5 linked regions of the Homo sapiens genome follow. The protein of the gene in region 5 interacts with the protein of the main gene of each other region in a pairwise test. Each region holds a gene or a part of one and is shown on either strand. Other genes may lie near its edges. The genes, in order: TLCD4, SLC18A1, SLC16A2, EVA1A and MS4A13.

Evidence for each region.
Region 1: the proteins of MS4A13 (region 5) and TLCD4 interact in binary tests that used the Homo sapiens proteins (3 or more experiments, as listed by UniProt).
Region 2: the proteins of MS4A13 (region 5) and SLC18A1 interact in binary tests that used the Homo sapiens proteins (3 or more experiments, as listed by UniProt).
Region 3: the proteins of MS4A13 (region 5) and SLC16A2 interact in a two-hybrid assay, tested with the Homo sapiens proteins (one large-scale study listed by BioGRID).
Region 4: the proteins of MS4A13 (region 5) and EVA1A interact in binary tests that used the Homo sapiens proteins (3 or more experiments, as listed by UniProt).

What each region holds. Positions count from the first base shown.
Region 1 is NC_000001.11:95,148,348-95,151,865, reverse strand, and holds part of TLCD4 (TLC domain-containing protein 4), read right to left. Parts: intron 3,165-3,518; coding exon 3,075-3,164; intron 1,659-3,074; coding exon 1,600-1,658; intron 542-1,599; coding exon 447-541; intron 1-446. Other genes in the region: TLCD4-RWDD3 (TMEM56-RWDD3 protein), read right to left, coding at 447-541, 1,600-1,658, 3,075-3,164.
Region 2 is NC_000008.11:20,159,130-20,162,647, forward strand, and holds part of SLC18A1 (chromaffin granule amine transporter), read right to left. Parts: intron 1-3,518.
Region 3 is NC_000023.11:74,424,485-74,428,002, reverse strand, and holds part of SLC16A2 (monocarboxylate transporter 8), read right to left. Parts: intron 1-3,518. UniProt on the Homo sapiens protein: Specific thyroid hormone transmembrane transporter, that mediates both uptake and efflux of thyroid hormones across the cell membrane independently of pH or a Na(+) gradient.
Region 4 is NC_000002.12:75,519,427-75,522,944, forward strand, and holds part of EVA1A (protein eva-1 homolog A), read right to left. Parts: intron 3,062-3,518; 5' UTR 2,939-3,061; intron 1-2,938. UniProt on the Homo sapiens protein: Acts as a regulator of programmed cell death, mediating both autophagy and apoptosis.
Region 5 is NC_000011.10:60,513,911-60,518,201, reverse strand, and holds the start of MS4A13 (membrane-spanning 4-domains subfamily A member 13), read right to left. Parts: upstream 2,811-4,291; 5' UTR 2,595-2,810; intron 2,234-2,594; 5' UTR 2,118-2,233; intron 131-2,117; 5' UTR 119-130; coding exon 1-118. UniProt on the Homo sapiens protein: May be involved in signal transduction as a component of a multimeric receptor complex.

The sequences.
Region 1 (3,518 bases), on a different chromosome or scaffold from region 5:
GAAAAAGTCTGAGCAAGATTTCTCCACTGCTCCAACCTACTTAAATGTAATTATGTATATGTAATTGCACATGGAATTAAACAGAAAAGAAATATTTTCGCTGGCTCATACTCTTTGCTGTTAAATCATAAATGCATCTAGAAATACAGACAAATATCTATAGCTACAACAATCCTGAAGGTTTTAAATGGAAATTCAAAGAATTAGGGTCATTTGTCTGTCTCAAAATCTATGAATACAAACAGACACACCAACACCAACACAGACACACATAAAGGTATTATTTTAGTTAATACAGAAGATAGCATACCACAAAAGCAATCCCTGAATGCATCTGGAGATGGTCTTTAAAAACTAAGAATTGTATGTTTAGATTTATGTTCACCTTTACATCACTATTCCCAATCTTGTCTGCTAGTTAGGCTACAGAAAATCCTGGAACTCACCAGTACAAGGTAGTATGCATACAGGGACGCACAATGATGCATTATAAAAAATTTGTCACCAATCACTTTCCAATACAAAATTATAATGGACAAATCTGTAAGAAAGAAAAGTGAGTAAGGTATTACATAAGAAGAAAGTTGCACTGTTTTTCAAATGTATTGAACTCTTTCTCCTGCCAACTCATCACTGTCCACTCTGAGCCCACAGCACTTTGTTCATCCCTCAGTTAGTCTGATTATCTACTTTACCATAAAATCTCTGCTCCTATATGCCTGTCTCATCCACACTCCTGTGGCTCCTCTAAGACAAGGGCCAGGTTGTGAGCATCTTTAAACCCTCAGAATCTAGCACAAGGCCTGGCATGTAGGTTGGTGCAAAAGTAACTGTGATTTTTGCCATTATTTTTAATCACAAAAACTGCAATTACTTTTGTACCAACCTAATCATATGTAATATAATATTTGTTGAAAGCATAAATGAATAACTTGTTTCCAGAGTTAAAATAAACAAAAAATATTATTGAATAGAAATAATTTTAAATAAGCTTAAGTGACTGATTTTTGTCACTACAATAATTCAAACAGAGATAAGATGGTCATAGGGAAGGTACAAAATGACCAACTCATTTATAAAACAAATCGTACAAAAAATATTTTAAAAATAAAAAAGAATGCAATTAAATACTAATTCAAAATAGTGACGCCACCAAAAACTATAACTATTAAAAAGAAAAACAAAGAAAAAAGCTTACTTCTGCAAATTTTACAAAAACAACACAAAACCATGACTACTGGAACACATTTCAAGAACTCTTGCAAGTGAGGGACCCTAAAAGTTAAATTTCGTTAGTTTCACAGTCATTACACTTAAGAGCCTCATTAGGACAAAGAGGGACCATATCCTTGCTGATAAAAAATGTCCAGGCCTCAGTTGTTTGAGGCATCACTCTGTAACTCTGATCTTCAGTGAGAAACAGAAAACCATTTCATGAAAAGACATTTCATGTTCTACCATCATGGGAGGTATTTTTTTCCTCTGTATGCTTCCTAAATGCTATCTCTCAAATAAACCAAAAGCATAGACTATATATTCTTTGTATAATTCCGTGAGTAGTTTACAAGGAATTAGACAATAAAACAACATCTCACATACCAGAAATGAGGTAGCCTGAGGCAATAGCAATATTCACGTTTGCAAGTGATGGACCACCCCTGAAAAAAAAAAAAGGTTCCTTTTTAAAGTATATAGATTGTAGATGACCGCTACTTCTTTTTTCTATAGAGATTTAAATATAATAAAATTGCTTTCTATAGATTCTCAAATGGTAAGCTGTCATCTTCAAATAAAATTGCAAAACACACAATGACAGTTTAGCCAAACTGTGACGCATCATGTGGTACTGGTGTTAGCAGTAAGGTAACTACTGCTGTTATCTTACATAGTAAGATAGTTACAAAGTGAACTACTAGTGAAAGTAACACTAACTAAAATAGCTGGACTACAAATATTTAATAGAAAGATTTAGCACAAGTTGTGCCTTCTTTACAAATTTTGATCTGTAAATATAACCAGGAAAATTTGACCTGGAGTAAATCATGACATAAAATTCAAATCAAAAATTATGTTAAAGTTCGATAAGGCAAAACTTGAACAATGAATCAAATCTTTGTTATGAAATTTACTTCCCAAAAGAACTGGTTTTATTTTGCTGATGGTCACGTTAGTAAAATGAAAACGAAAATTTTTAAAAAGCTAGAAATTTTGTAGGTAGACTATTTAAAAACCTAGTCATGGAATTAAATTCAATAAATTAATTCTCTTTGAAAAACAGCATCCCAATGAAAATGTATCAATACTGATATTATTCTTCTGGGAATAATTTTATATTTATGAATAGAAAAACGTCCTTGCAGTCAAATGGTGGTGGTCAAAAGAAAAGGCTAAATTGCCCTACATCCCCCGGAGCCCACAACTACCTCATCTCAGTGCAGTGCTTCTTCAAACATGCCTGCTCTCTCAAACTAAGCTGAACTAAGCCTTCTCATATAACACCAGGAAACAGTTTGCAAAATTTCTGCCATTGGAATGACATTTAAATTTTTCTAAAAGGACCATCTTACATGTTATCCTATTACTACTGAACACAGTTATTATTAGTGCATTAGTGCTTCAAATCCTGTGGTACTAAATTCCTATCACATGGCCATCTGTAACTCTCATTTCATCTCTTTGATATCAAATGAGTCAAACATAAATTGGAGACAAAAAAGTCTTAAGTAGATATTATCCAAGTTGACTACCCTATCTCAATAATGATTTATTTTTCTTCAGAACTGTGACTACAATAACTTGGCTTTACTCATTAACACAGTAAAAATGTTTAAATTATCATCATATTCTCCTTGTTTTGGATAACAATTGCTACACTAAGGCAAAATGGCCTTCATTTGTGTTCAAATCTAAAATAAATCATTTAAATGCACTTTGCTAGAATGTCTGAGCACAAGCATTTTAATAAGGCATATACGATCAATATGTTTTCTGTTTTAAAGTAAGTGATGTTCTTATAAATAATTAATATCAAAACATAAATGAAATTGGCAATCTTAGAAAAAGAAACAGCTTACCAAAGTGGATCAGCTTTAGTAGCCTCATCGAATAAGAAAATGTACAGGCCAAAAATACCAACCACCAAAGAATGGCATGTGGATACTACCCTGAAATTAAACAAAATACACACAAAGATTTTAGATTCTTTGCAATAAAATTTAATCCTGACAAGACACAGAACATTCTGAACAAGTTATACCTGGAAGCATTTATATACAGGTGTGAAGTATAACGGAGAGTATAATGCAAAATTGCCATTTCTTGCCATTTAGAAATCCAAAGGCCACAGCTTTACTTTGGAATAAAGAAGGAGGAAGATACCAAGGCCTACAATTTCCTGCTAGAGAACTGGTGAATCACTTATTGGTTAAAAGTTCTAAGACAGATAAATGCATACATGATGATGCAGCTGACAGACTTTTGTGCAGCCAGATGGCAACTGGCAAGGCCACTACCCTTGG
Region 2 (3,518 bases), on a different chromosome or scaffold from region 5:
CCCCTGGACTGGCCTGCTAGCCCATGCTCCAATGTTGATGACATCGAAAGCACCCCTCTCAAGGAACTTTCAACTGCATGACCCCTACTATGCCCCAGTTCGGCAGGAAGCAGTTAGAGCGGTCATCAGCCAACCTCCCCAACAGCACTTGGGTTTTCCTGTTGAGAGGGGGTACTAACAGACAGGACTAGCTGGATTTCCTAGGCCAATTAAGAATTCCTAAGCCTAGCTGGGGAAGGTGACCACACCCACCTTTAAACAAGGGGCTAGTAACTCAGCTCACACCTGACCAATCACATAGTAAAGAGAGCTCACTAAAATACCAATTAGGCTAAAAGCAGGAGGTAAAGAAATAATCAAATAATCTATCACCTGAGAGCACAGAGGGAGGGACAATGATCGGGATATAAACCCCAGGCATTCCAGCCAGCAGTGGCAATTCCCTTTGGGCCGCCTCCCATTATATGGTAGCTCTGTTTTCACTCTATTAAATCTTGCAGCTGCCAAAAAAAAAAAAAAAAAAAAAAAAAAAAAGAAAGAAAAAGAAAAGAAAAGAAATCTCTGAAATATGGGGATAATCATAATTTCTACCAGACAGGCCAGTTGTGAGGTTTAAACAAAATAGTGCATATCAAACATTTTGCATCGTGCCTGTCGCAGAGTAAGGGCCCTACAAGCACTGGTCTTGATTATTATCATCATAACTCGTGAGTGGCATGTCAGGACTTGAGTCCAGGCCATCTCACTCTAACTCCAAGTGTTTCCACTATGCCACACCCCCAGCGTGGTAGCACAGATGGCTCTGGTATAAGGAACTGTTTGAGATCAGCAGAGTGAGTTTGTCTGGATCTCACCAGCCCTTTTAATCCCTCTCTATACCTAGAAAAAAACAGTGCAGGCTAACAAAAAATACCATGGCAATTACAATTAAATTAAAAGTCAACAATCAACCATTTATTGGCTGACAACTTGTTTGCTTTTAATATTCTCTTCTATGGAGTAGAAGTAAGCACACCTTAGTGTATTTGTGTAGGCTATCCTGGACAGGTGGCAATCTGTTGCAAACTGTACCCATTCGTTTATATTTAATTGCTTAAAAAAATTAAAACTACTCAATTGTTTATCTAGTATGTGGAAGTAAGCACCTCTAGGAAGCCTACAGCCTCCTAGATACACCTCCTTGACATCATTTTAAATGGTGTAAAATTTCCTTAATTAGATTTTTCTCAATCCACGTTGCTCGTTCTTTAGGACCTGATTATAGCTTACATTTTAGCAGTATTTTGTGCAAAATAGGTGCTCCAGAATATGTATTTATAGATACATGACCCCTGCATGAAAAACATCTGTTTTTCACAGTGAATCTCTAAGGGGTGAGGGATTACACATTTTGTGACTATCAAAATGGTTTAAAGTAAAATTGTACAAATAATTTTTTATTTACTGATAGTATCCTGTATTCCACGCACTGGGCTAATCCATTTAGGATTCCAGATGAAAATGACTCTGAAAAATACCTACTTTTTTACAAATTAAAAAACTGAAGTTGGTCTTAGTCTGTTTTATTTTTGCTGCTGTAACATATTACCACAGATTGGGTAATTCTTAAAGAAAAAAGATGTATTTGGATCACAATGCTGGAAGCTGGGAATCGCAAGTGCATGGCACCAGCATCTGCTTGGCCATCTGGTGAGGGACTTCTTGTTGGGTCATAATACAGCCGAAGGGTATCACATGGAGAAAGGGCATTTGAGAGAGAAAAGAAAAAGGGGCCAAACTCCCCCCTTTTGTGACTAACCCACTCCTATGATAATTGCTTTAATCTATTCATAAAGGTGGTGCCCCTAGGACTTTATCACCTACTAAAGGTTCCACTTCTCAACACTGTTGCATTGGGGATTAAGTTTCCAACACACAAATTTTGGAGGACATAGCATTCTACCCCCGGCCTCCAAAATTCATGTCCTTGTCACAATGCAAAATGCATTCAATCCATCCCAATAGTTTCAGAAGTCTTAAGTGGTTCCAGTGTAAACTCAAAAGTCCAAAATCCAGAGTCTTGTCTAAATTAGTTATGGGTGAGATTCAAGGTACGATTAATCCTGAGGCAAATTCCCTCCAGCTGTGAGCGTGTGAAATCAAAACAAATTATACTTGGCCCTTTGTATTTGCAGGTTTCACATCCTTGGATTCAACTAATCGCAGATCAAAAATATATGAGGAAAAAAAATAAAAATAACAGTACAAGATAAAAATAATACAAAAAAGAAAATAATACAGTATAACAACTATTTATATAGCATTTCCATTGCATTAGGTGTTACAAGTCATTGAGAAATGATTATAGTACATGGAAGTACGTGTGTAGATTATATGCAAATACGATGCCATTCTATGTAAGGGACTTGAACATCCTTTGAGTTTGGTATCCGTGAGGAGTCCTAGAACCACTCTCCTATGCACACCAAGGGATAATTTACCTACTTTCAAAAATAATGGTGGAACAAAGATAGAACAGGCATTCTTATTTCAAAAGGAAGCAACAGGGAAGAAGAAAGGGGTAACAGGTCCCACGAAAGTCCAAAGCCCAAAACAGAAAACAATATTATGTCTTAAAGCTGGAGAATAATTGCCTTTGACTCCATGTCCAAAATCCTGGGCACACTGGAGTGGAGTTTGGACCCCTAAGGCATCAGGCAGCCCCATGTCTGTGGTCTTTCCGGGCTGAGTCTACCCAGCAGCAATCATGGGTTGGAGTCTTGTGCTTGCAGGCCACCATGCTGGTGCCCCTACAGTTCCGTGATCTTGGAAGTGGCTGTGCATGGCATCTTTTGAAATTTAGGTGGAAGAAGTCATGCACCCATAGCTCTTGCATTCTGCGCACGTGCAAAATTTGCACCACATAGACACCACCAAGGCTTACCACTTGCACCCTCCAGAGTGGGAGGCCAGGCCACATCTGGGCCCACTTGAGCCATGGCTGGCACAGTTGAGGGGCACTGCACTGAAACGCAGAGAGCAGAGTCCCAAGGTGGTCCTGGGCAGTGAGCCCATGGAGGGTGTCCCAGGCTTATTCCCAAACCATTCTGCCCTCCTACATCTCTGGGCCAGTAATGGGAAGCACAGCTTCGAAGGTCTCTAAAATGCCTTTGGGTCTTTCTCCCACAGTCTTAATAAGTGGTGCCTGGCTCACTTTTATCCACACTAATCACTTTAGGTTGCTTGGCCACAGTCTTGGTGTGCTCTCCTAAAGATGCCTTTTCTTTCTTTCCAAGGCCAGGCAGCAAATTTTCCAAGTCTTTCTGTTTTGTTTCTCTTTTAACCATAAATTTCACCTTTAAATCATTTCTTTGCTTTCACATGTCACTATATATGCAGTTAAAACAGCCACAAAGCAGCCTGAAGCTTTGCTGCTTAGATATTTCTTCTGCCAGATATCCTAGTTTATTGCCTCTAAGTTCTTCATTCCATGAAGTCCTAGGTTATGGATACAAGTCTGCCAAGTTTTTTGTAACTGT
Region 3 (3,518 bases), on a different chromosome or scaffold from region 5:
TCATCACTCTCGCCTAGCAAGCTTCTTAGTCTGGTTCCTTTGCACTAGTACAGCATAATCTTTACAGAAGCCTCTGGTACACCTAATTCCATGAACAGATGGGAAATGACTTATTTCAGATGGAATATTCATAATCTATGGCTTAGGGTGTAGGGTATGGGTGTGTGTGTGTGTGTGTGTGTGTGTGTGTGCGCGCGCGTGCACGCGTGCGCATGCGCTTGCGCACATGTGTATATGTGTAGAACAAAGCCTTTTCTCTAGGGTTCATTCATTCAATCTCAAGTGAGACAACACCTTTCAAGACAGGAAATCCCACTCCGTCATTCACACAATCTGAAAAGAGTAGTTTTCATCTTTTCAAAATGCAACAAAACCATAAAATGAGGCTGGTGGGAAAAGCAGTGCATCTTCCTGGGAAACTGGTCTGCTCAAAAGGTTGATATGGCATCCTTTATATACTTCTACAAATGTTGACAGTCCAGCTGCTTGTTTACTCTTCATGGGCTGGAGGCAATACGGCCAATGACTTCCAAGGAAAAGGAAAGAGAGCTCTGTGCCTGCTACTTCCGTAGGCACACTCTCAGCTAAGCCCTGACGCTGCAGTTGACCAGGGATTGTGGGCATCTAATGGGCCTTCTCCAGGATCACAGTAGCAACCCTCCCCAACCCCACCACAGCAGGATCCAGGCAGTGGCCCTGAGCCAGCTATCAAAACGCCCTGTTTGAAGACCTCTGAAGGGAACCTCATTTAGGAATCCGTTTCCTCTGCTAGCTGGAAGTAACAGCAAACCAAGGTCACACTGACTATGCATTTCTGAGAAATAAGACTGTGCTGTGGGAAATTCAGTTTCAGAAGAGGGGTCCAAACTGAGGCTTGAGGAAATGTTTATAATTTAATACTTTTGAGGAACAGGTTCAAACGCTGGAAAACAGCAGCATACAGACCCACCCTGCTTGCCTGCCAAATCCAGGGAGTTCTCTTGGAGACCCAGCTCTATACCAATCAGGACACTCTGGAAGAAGCAGCTCCACATGCAGGGTTGCCCTTACATACTAGGTAAAAAGGATTGGGTAATTTTTAAACACATCTATACCCATGGGCAGCCCCATAGTCTTTAAATACAAATGACGTGGGGAAATGATGTATATAGGGCTTTTCCTTGCTTTCCCAATCTTCTCCCAATCCATCCTCACTGTCATTCAGGCAGCTTAACGAACTTTTATTTACTTAAATGAGTCAAAATGTATGACATATGAATAGTAAAGAATAAGATATCACATAATTTTAGAAGGATAGAATGGTAGGGCTAGAAAGTTTATTTAGTCAAACCCTCTCATTTTATAGATAGATAAACTGACATACAGAGAGGTGAAGTGCCTGTCCAAAGTCACAGAATAAGTTAGGGGCACAAGTTGTCTAAGTCACAGTTACTGCCTAGCTGGTATCACTGAGACTGCCAGCTTTGGGGAGTCCAGATTTGGCCCTGGGTCTTGCTTTTTTAGACTTAGAATGAGCATTTGAGGCCACTGTACAGTGATCCAGGCATCCAGCCTCAACCAGCTACCCCAACTCAAACAAGCATCCTCCTGGTTGGCCTCCAAATGACCCAATCTCTTATTCTCATCCCTTTCAGTATCAGTCATGGTCATAGTTCAAGATCCCATTTGGTTGGAAAGGGGGCAGGGGAATGACGTGAGAGATGCCTGGCCAAGGGCTGTGTGGCTTGAAGCACCACAGCAGGCGCTAAGCCAACCTGATCTAGCTCTGCTGGACAGTAGTCAAGAGCCTTCAGCTGAAGTCAAGAGATTGGCAGATTTGCTCAAAATACACTTTGCTCCCAAAGTCAGCAATTTAGTGTTACAGTCCAGTGAGACACTGAACCAAGCAATGAAAACCCCTAAGGTGAGAAGGAGAAAGACAGCCTACTCTACCTGGCCCCACCCAACCTTGGGACTCTTGGTTCACCCAAAGGCAGAGTGTATCATTCTTCCCCATGCCTAGAAAATTCTGTTTCCATCAGAGTGGACCATCAGCCTGAACTATCTTGTGCCTAGTAGTGAACCTTCCTGACCATTGTCCCTTTCTCTGGTGATGAGAGCCTCAGCCTTGACCCCCCTTGGGAGCTTACAAGGACCATGCTTATAAACTGCCCAGTAAAACAAAAATGCCTTCCATATTTTTTGGCTCAATGGTGGACCGGCAGTCAAGTTTTACTCTGGAGTACTTTTAAAAAGACTTAAGCATAGAGCCAATGTTAGCAACTCTGGCTTGTTCTGCCTTGTCCTCTGAACTCCCAACCCTAACCCTATTGCAGGTCCAACTCACTTAGGGTCCCAATATTGAGCTGGGGCCTACAATCAATGGCGTCTTGCTTCTCTTTCCCCTCTTTCCTCCAAAAGGCTTCCCTACCACCCCAAGAAGCTATGCTTGGGCCTTTACTTTCCACAGAATTGCCTGGTTGCCTCCTGTCCTGTCTGCTGTTTGGTCTGGGTTGGGGAACTCACAAATTTCCCATGATCTTGGCAAGAAATACAGGCTCATTTCCCTCCTGATCTTTTTCCTTTTTTCACTAAACCAGAGTTTGATCACTTGCCTCCCTCTCAGGGACCTTTTGCCTGCCAATCCACCCAAGCCTAGGACCCAGGGAAAGTTGGCTTTCCTCCAAAACTGGTGAAGAGAGGGGATAAGATATACAGCTGGTGACACCACAAAACTGTATACATCAAAGGGTCCACAAAAACTGCACATTGCATGCTCTAGTAAGGCCTGAATCCCATATCCCTTCTAACTTCTGTGGCTTTTTCCCATGCCCAGAGGCACTCTGATGTGGAGCTGTTCCTCAAACATCAAAACTACCTTTCTTCCCAGCTACTTGGGAGGCTGAGGCAGTAGGACTGCTGGAGGCCAGGAGTTTGAGACCAGCCTGGGCAACATAGCAAGAGTCTGTTTTTAAATAAATAAATAAATAAATAAAAATTAGCCAGGTGTGGTGGCGCATGCCTGTAGTTCTAGCTACTTGAGAAGCTGAGGTGGGACGATTGCTTGTGCCCAGGAGTTTGAAGGTGTCGTGAAATATGACTGCGCCACTGCACTCCAACCTGGTCAACAGAGCAAGATCCCATCTCTAAAAATAAAGTATAAGAAACTACCTTTCTGTGGGGCTTCCTCACAACAATCCCAATCATCTGCAGGACCTTCCACCCATTAAGCCACTCAACACAGCTTTAGGTCTGTGAAGATATTAGGCCTAGTCAAAGAGAAATTGGGTTACGAGGTGCCTCCAAACACCAAATTCATAGACTCTTAGAGATGGAAGTCATGTCAGATATTAATAAAAATGGACGATGCACCAAATTCCTTGAGCGTGGGGGTGTACATTCTGTTTCTCCCAGAATGGCTATTGGACAAATACTGGCTGATAAAAATGACACAAACTTCTATTAGCTTCTTCTATCCCTTTGAGACACCAGTGCTGTGGCACAGACGGCTGGGAAATTTTGAGTAAACAGCAGAAAGT
Region 4 (3,518 bases), on a different chromosome or scaffold from region 5:
TGGTAGATTTCAGCAGGCTTCAGGAAAGACCAAAACAAGAAAACACCAACCAACTCACAGGCACAAAGAAACAACCATAAAGTCCTTGGAGCGGCCAGAGGCTCTGAGAGTGACAGGAGAAGGAGTGGGAGCTCCAGGGACTTTGAAAAGAGACTGGCTGCTGTTAAGGGACCCTTGAGCCGCTGAGCCAGAACACAGCGCCTCTTTCAACAGTCATTTGTGTTCCTAAAAGGTGGCAACTGGATGATACACGTGAATGGTGAGAGCCATCAAACTGAGTTCAGAGGCTGTTCTACAGATCTGAGGACTTCAAGACCCAGGAAAAGAGTGAAGCTACTGGAATATGTCTGAGTTTGTAGTGAGCCATGTGTATTTCAAAACCATTCCCTCCTTCCTGTCTCCACTAATGTTACCAGATTGCAAGTCTTATCATTTTATTTCTGGGAGTTTTGCAACAATCTCCTACCTGGTCTTTCTGATGATACCTCCTTCCTTCTCAATATAGCACCCATTCTTATTAACAGGGTCATTTTTCTATAGTACAAATATGATCACATCACTCCACAACCCAACTCTAATGAATTTCCATTGACCTCTTAACACAATACACATCCACTTTCACAATATCTGACCTCTGCCTTACCTCCTAATGTATCTCCTATCCAAGCTGACAGTCACACACATATACACACAGATAATAAGAATGCTTAGAGCTTCAACAATACTAGATTACTTTTAGTTCCCCCAAGTAGAGCAAGCTCTTTCACCTCTTCATGCTTTTGGTCACACTCTTCCTGTTGCCTAAATGCCCCCCTTCTCTTCATCTGTCTGGCAAATGTTTCCTATAAGAAAGAATTCAGAAGTTTTATGGCAGTCCCAAAATCTCAATGATGTTTTTGCAGAAATAAAAAAATCCATACTGAAATTCATATGGAATCTCAGGGGACCCCAAACAGTCAAAACAATCTTGAAAATTAACAAAGTTAGACATCTCACTCTTCCTGATTTCAAAACTTATTATAAATCTATAGTAATCAAAACAGTGTAGGCCTAGCATATAAAAACAGACATGTAGCTTAATGGAATAGAATAGAACATCCAAAAATAAACCCTTACATATATATATGTTCAAATTATTTTTGCAAGGGTGCCAAGACCATTCAATGGGAAAAGACTGCCTTTTCAGCAAACGGTGTTGGAAAAACTGGATGTCCACGTGCAAAAGGATGAAGTTGGACCCTTACCTTACACTATATAAAAAATTAACTCAAAATGTGTCAAAGACCTAAATGTAACAGCTAAAAATTTTAGAAGACTGTTAGAAGAAAACAGGGGTAAAGATTCATGACATTGGATTTGACAATGATTTCTTGGATATGACACCAAAAGCACAGGCAACAAAAGTAAAAAAAAAGAAAAGGACTCTATGAAAATTAAAAACTTCTGTGCATCACAGGGCACAACAGAGTAAAAAGGCAACCCACAAAATGGGAGAAAATATTTGCAAATAATATATCTGATAAAGGGTTAATATCCAGACTGCTACCTATCCTAATTCCTAATATCAGAACTCCTACAACTCAACAACTAAAAACAAAGAGCTCAATTTAAAAATGGGCAACAGACTTGAAGCAATATTTCTCCAAAGATATACAAGTAGTCAATAGGCACATGAAAAGATGCTCCACATAACCAAGCATTAATGAAATCAAAATCAAAACCACAATGAAATATCATCTCATACCCGTTAGGATGACTACTATCAAAAATCAGAAAATAAGTATTGGAACCCTTGTGCACTGTTGATGGGAAGGTAAAATTGTGCAGCCACTGTGGAAAATAGGATGACTATTCCTTAAAAAATGTTTAAATAGAATTATTGTATGACCCAGCCATTCCACCTCTGGGTATATACTGAAAGGATTTTAAAGCAGAGACTTGAACAGAATTTGTACACCAATGTTCAGAGCTGCATTATTCACAATAGCCAAAAGGTGGAAGTAACCCAAATGTCCATCCACAGATGGATGAATAAATAAAATGTTGTCTACACATACAATGCAATATTACGCACAGCCTTAAAAAGGAAGGCATAAGCATGGATTAAACTTGAGGACATTAGGCTAAGTGAAATAAGCCAGTCAAAAAGGACAGGTATTATATGATTCCACATGTATGAAGCACCAACAGTGGTCATATTCATAGAGACAGAAAGTAGCGGTTGTCAGGAACAGGAGCAGGGAAAAGATAATTATTGAACAGGGTACAGGGTACAAAGTTTCTGTTTTGCAAGATGAAAAGAGTTCTGGGGAAGGATGATGGTGATGGTTGCACAATAATGTAAATATACTTAATGCCACTGAACTATACACTTAAAAGTAATTTAAGATGACGAATTTTGTTATATGTATTTTACCACAATTTAAAAATTGTGTTGGTGAGGTAAAACAGGGAATTTTGAAGGTTACTTTATTTAAAGAATCTTGCAATCAAATTTTGGTTTTAAGTTAATAAGAATGATGGCAGAGTTATCTTTTAGCGGTATTAAATTTGAAGTCAATAAAATTCTAATTCATATCACATTATGATATGGCTTAATTTTAAGTAAGAGATGTTATTGCATTTATTTTTAAAAATTGGATTGTAAATAAGTGTACTCTACCATATTTATAGATTAACAGGAAAAAGATCGTATGAATAGATGAAAAAATGTATTTGTGTAAAATTTAATAAAAAATTCATGATTTAAGCAAAGGAAAGACCTATTGCAGTGAAGCCCCCTATTAATCTTCCAAATGCCTTTCTTTGGCTATCAAAGTGTCCAAATATTCTTCTAATATTGTGCCTATGATATTGCAATTGGAACTGAGTGTCCCCTGGTATGTCACCCCCATACATAGTGTTCAGGGGGTAATAATCTCATTATCCCTTTAGCTACCTGGGGAGAGGTGGGGTGTCAGGAGCAGAGAAGTTTCTGGTAAGAACAGTTCATCTCTGATGATGTTGGCATCAGCCAGTAGAGGTTCTAAAACTTGTTTGGCCCCAGTTGGCTTCTCAGACTCTGAAAGAAAAAAGAAGCAGCACAAAAACCATCATATACCCAGGAGATCACATCATACCTTAGACCTGGTATGTGTGTGAACCCAGCAGAGAAGCTTTGGTGGCTAGTGTCTGGATCCTTGGAAGGATGAATAGCATCCCCAGAGAGGAGAAAGCCCATTGACAGAGTGTAATCTGGAATTTGAACTAGACAGCCAGATAAACCAGTCTCCCAGGGTCATACCAGAAAGGATGCAAGAGGTAAAAGATCAAAGAAACATGCTTCCTCTCTGCTCCTGTCAGCCAAAATCCACAAAACAGCTAGTGTGGGATGTCCCAATCTGGCCCCTCATCAGTGAAGTTTGCAGGCCAGCCTCTCTGGAACAGGAAGGGAGGGAATTCTGTTTCCTTCTAGCAATGCCCAGATGGGCCATGAAATGAAGTCTCACACAGCTCTGTAGGAACTAGAATCCTGGAAA
Region 5 (4,291 bases):
ATAAAGTACATCCTGTTTTGTAAGTTACAGGTTCATACGTTCCAAAGGCTCCTTTAATTTGTCCCATATACAAAACCAATAGAAAGTACCACATGAAAATGTGAAAGATGCCAATCATAATCTGGATAGTCTGTGAGAAGAGAATTATGTTAGTACCGAAATAATGTAATTTAAAACACAATTCCAATAAGTGTTAACTATAAGAAGCATTTAACACCTTTACAAATACAAAAGTAAAACAGCAATGCACTTAATGATGTATTTCCTGGATTGGTTATCCCAGAAAAAAGGACCGATCAGGAAGGACTGAGATTTACCAAATAGGAATCAGTCATACTGAAAGCAACAGGCTGTTCAATAATAGTAGCTCTGGCCAATTCTCCTGTAAGTTAACAGTTTGATTCTATCACTGGATAGTCTCCCTACCTATCAAGTAATGGTATGAGAGAATATTGGGGTTACTTCAGAGAAAATGTGGTTACTAATCTACTATAATGCAGGAAGCCATAAATCCAACATTTTCTTGTACATTAGTAATTTATTAAAGATGAATCACTTTTTGAATTTTATAAAGGTTTGATTTATCTTTTCCTTCAAGGAGTATTTGGTATGATTTTTTTCACAAGTATGCTGGAGTGGGGCATAATCCAACACAGCAATACAGAAAATATCCAAAATGGACTCGCTTGAACTCGGTTTTCCCATTGGAAAGGGGAAGGATTTTGAATAGGGGAGAATTATTACTCAACTCTAATTTGTAAGAAGATAATTATAATCCCAGCAAATTTATTTCTGAATTTATATGTGAACTGATATTTCATATATTTAATCACATTTTTGATTACTCTTTAAAAATGACAGAGGACACATAAATTTTATTTTCATATAAACTTAAACAGAAAGCTATTTAATGTTTTAAGAGTTCCAGCTCTTTGCAAAGCAGGCAGTCTATGAAATATATAAGTGCAATTGGCTAACTTTAAAAAATACATTTTGGAGAAGTTTTGTTTTTTTTTTAAGAAAAAGTCTCTTTTTTGGTAACGATCATGCATTTTTATAGATTTAGAATTTAACGTTTCCCCTTGCATCAAATTTGCAAGAATGGTAATTTTCCAGAAATTCTTTGGATTTGCCTGGAGAAATATCTCCCACTAGACTGCAAAATCCCTTAGGGCCTGGAGTTTTTTTTTTTTTATTGTTTTATCACCAGCCTCTAATATGGTGCCCAGAATAGAGAAGGCATCCAGCAAATACCTCTTATATAAGCATACTGGTGTCAAGAATAGTGATTCCATGTGACTTTCCCAACTGTTAAAAAAGTAAGTGAGCTTGAAAAGTACTATCTCTTTTTAAATGATTGACTATTGTTTTATATAAAACCATGAGATAGCTAATTAGCCAATGCTTGTTAAGAACTGCCAGTGTGTGGAGAAGGACAAGATAGGTTTTCTTATTTAAAAATGATTCTTAATCTAGAATCAATATGAGTTCCAGGAGGTCAGACCCGCCTACCCCCTGCCCCCAGGGAAAAAAAATGCGAAGGATTGTGACATGTACATAATTCTGGAAAGAAGATTCAGAGTTTTCATTCTATGCCAAAATGGTCTGTGACCCCAAAGAGGTTAAGAACCTCTGCTGAACAGTCGTATAGGCGACTTAGATAATTGATCTATGCAACATTCAAATTCAGAAGAAAAGTTCACGAGTGGAAATGTTTTCTCCCCTTTGGATGTGAAAAAGCATGATACTCATAATTCCTTGGTGTTCATTAAGAAAGCTAAACTGTAACTTCACATGTTTATAACTTAATAGAAGAGACAAATTTATAATCATCCTACTGCATAAATGTAAGTGCAGTACTCTCTTTTTTCCTTTTAAACCTTACTTGGATTTCTCTATTATCCTGTGTGTGTTGGTTTAGTCTGTATCCCCATATCTCAGCACATGAAGGAACATGAGATCAGTCAAAATTTGTAGAAGACAATCAACATTTGAAAAAAAAAAAACTTTTACCCTTTTGATTTAACCAAGTCTGTCCCCCTTTAGATCCAATATATCCGTTAAAAAAATGAAATAGTTCATGATCTTAAATTTAGTTAGTCAAAGTGAAATCTTACCCCTAAAACGAGAGAATCTGCTGTAGAGATTTGTTAAAGAACACATGCCATACTGCCAGCATTTCCTCTAGATGATTTTCTCTTTAACCTTTGGTGATGTCTTTATTAGCAAACTTCTACAAAACAGTACAAAGCACATATACATTATTTTCTTAGAAGAAAATACGTAAGTTTGATCCTTTCCTTATTGTTCAGTCACCACCTCTCCAAATTCAGAAGCAATAGCCTTCTTTCTTCTTTCTAGGCCTTAATATTAGAGGCATCAACTTTCATCCATCTGTTCTGAATAACAGCCTTCATAACTGAAAAGTCTCTCTCTATGACTAAAACATATCGGCATTTTACAGCTATCATCTCTGAGTAGTAAATAGTGCCTACTGTTTACAGAGTATGATAGGGAGAGGAACACCGTAATCAGCCTCCGTGTCCCTTTATGGCTTCTGACACGAAAGCACTCCAGCAAAGCGACATCACTACCCTGCATTTTACTTGTTCAAGGTTCCAAGGAGTTTCGGGGGGCGCTCGTCCAGGACCCAGTCCGAGTTCTCACGCCAGCGCCCAGGCCTAGATGAAGAGGAAGATCCCGGCTGGCAACGCGCTCAGCGCCAGGTCCCCAGATCTCGCTGAGCTACCATCACAGGGATAGCCAGGAGCCCAGCACCCGGCCGGCTCTCAGGCTCCTCAGGGAGTGACGGTCTGCAATGGCAACGGTGTGCTCCTCTTGCGCCTGCGCACCCACTCAGGAACTGCCGGGGCGGAGGTAGTGCGTGTGCGCAGACTCACTAGGCTCCTGGCAGCCATGTGGTCAGACACCCGGTTAACTACGTTTTGGTGCCTCTAGGAACGGTTTCTGCAAACCTCTATTCTGAGATTGCCCATATTGGTGCATTTCTTATACACCCACCTGCTGCACAGTGACCAGGATCACTGAGGAGAAGTCCGCCCTTCACCTTTTCTGTCTTCAAAGAAAAATTTTGACCACAAGAGCACCTTTGGAAGGTGCACTTTCGAGTGAAGTGGCTAAATCAATGGCTCACTTTTTTTTTCTTTAAACATAAGTAACTGAAGAAGGAAATTAGTGATGAAAGTAATACTTAACAAGACACCAGAATGACTTTTTGATCCACTTGCTGAGGCGGGTTTACCTTTTAGGTGACACGTGGTGTTAGTTTTCTGTTTGAGGTGTAGACAGTAGTTAAAACAGTGTTTATGAAGAGGTGCTTTAGATGAGCAGTACAGACCATCCTCTTAGGCAGCTATCATGACTTACTGAGGCGTTTAAAGTACCTGGAGAACAGCCACTCAATGGCATTTCTCATTTATTCATGGAAAATTTAAATTGACATTGTGGAATAGTTAAAATTCCAGCTTGTAGTGTAAATTTTTAGTCAATGATAGCCAGTGAGTAAAACACGCAGAAAACAAGACAGATTTTTCTTTCATAAGGAAATTTTCTATGCTTTCAACACCTTTATTTGCAAAAAGCTAAATCATGAGTGTGTCTAAAAGCCATCAAGATCTTTTATAGCCTGAAAAATCAACTGTAAATTGAGAATCTTAATTTTTAGTCTCACAGCTAGCTTCCTTACATTGAGACTCCAAAGTCCCCTCAAATCAAAGGAAAAAAAAACAAAAAAAAAAAGCCCAGCCTCTTCTAAAGTCTTTACATTCTGTATTGGTCAGTATGTCATTGAAGGTAATAGTTTTATTCTTAAGTAATATACCACTTCAGTTTCTAGCATTATTATTATTTTGTGAGTTCCTTGTCTATGAGCAGACAGGGCTCCGATAATATTAAGCATTCTCTTTGCTGTAGAAAGAGGAACTGTGTCTTCAACCTCAGGGTTATGGATTTTTTAGAATCCATAGTAGTAAGAGCCAGTTCTGATGAGATGGACCGCTATTGTAACTTGCTGCCAAGACTGATTGATTATTTGTGAGAGAAGTGACATATTTCTTCATTTAAGCTTTGGCCAACAGTCTCTGGAAATTATCATGGATTTGGTCATTTTTTTGGACTGGGGCCAAAATGTGTTTTCAGTATAAACATAGGCAAAAATAGAAGAGTGAGCCAAACTATGAGACAGGCATGGTTCCTTGGTACATCTTATTTCTTCTGCTAATATCACAGATCAGTAAAAGCAACATTGATTTTCTCAGTACCTATAAACTGG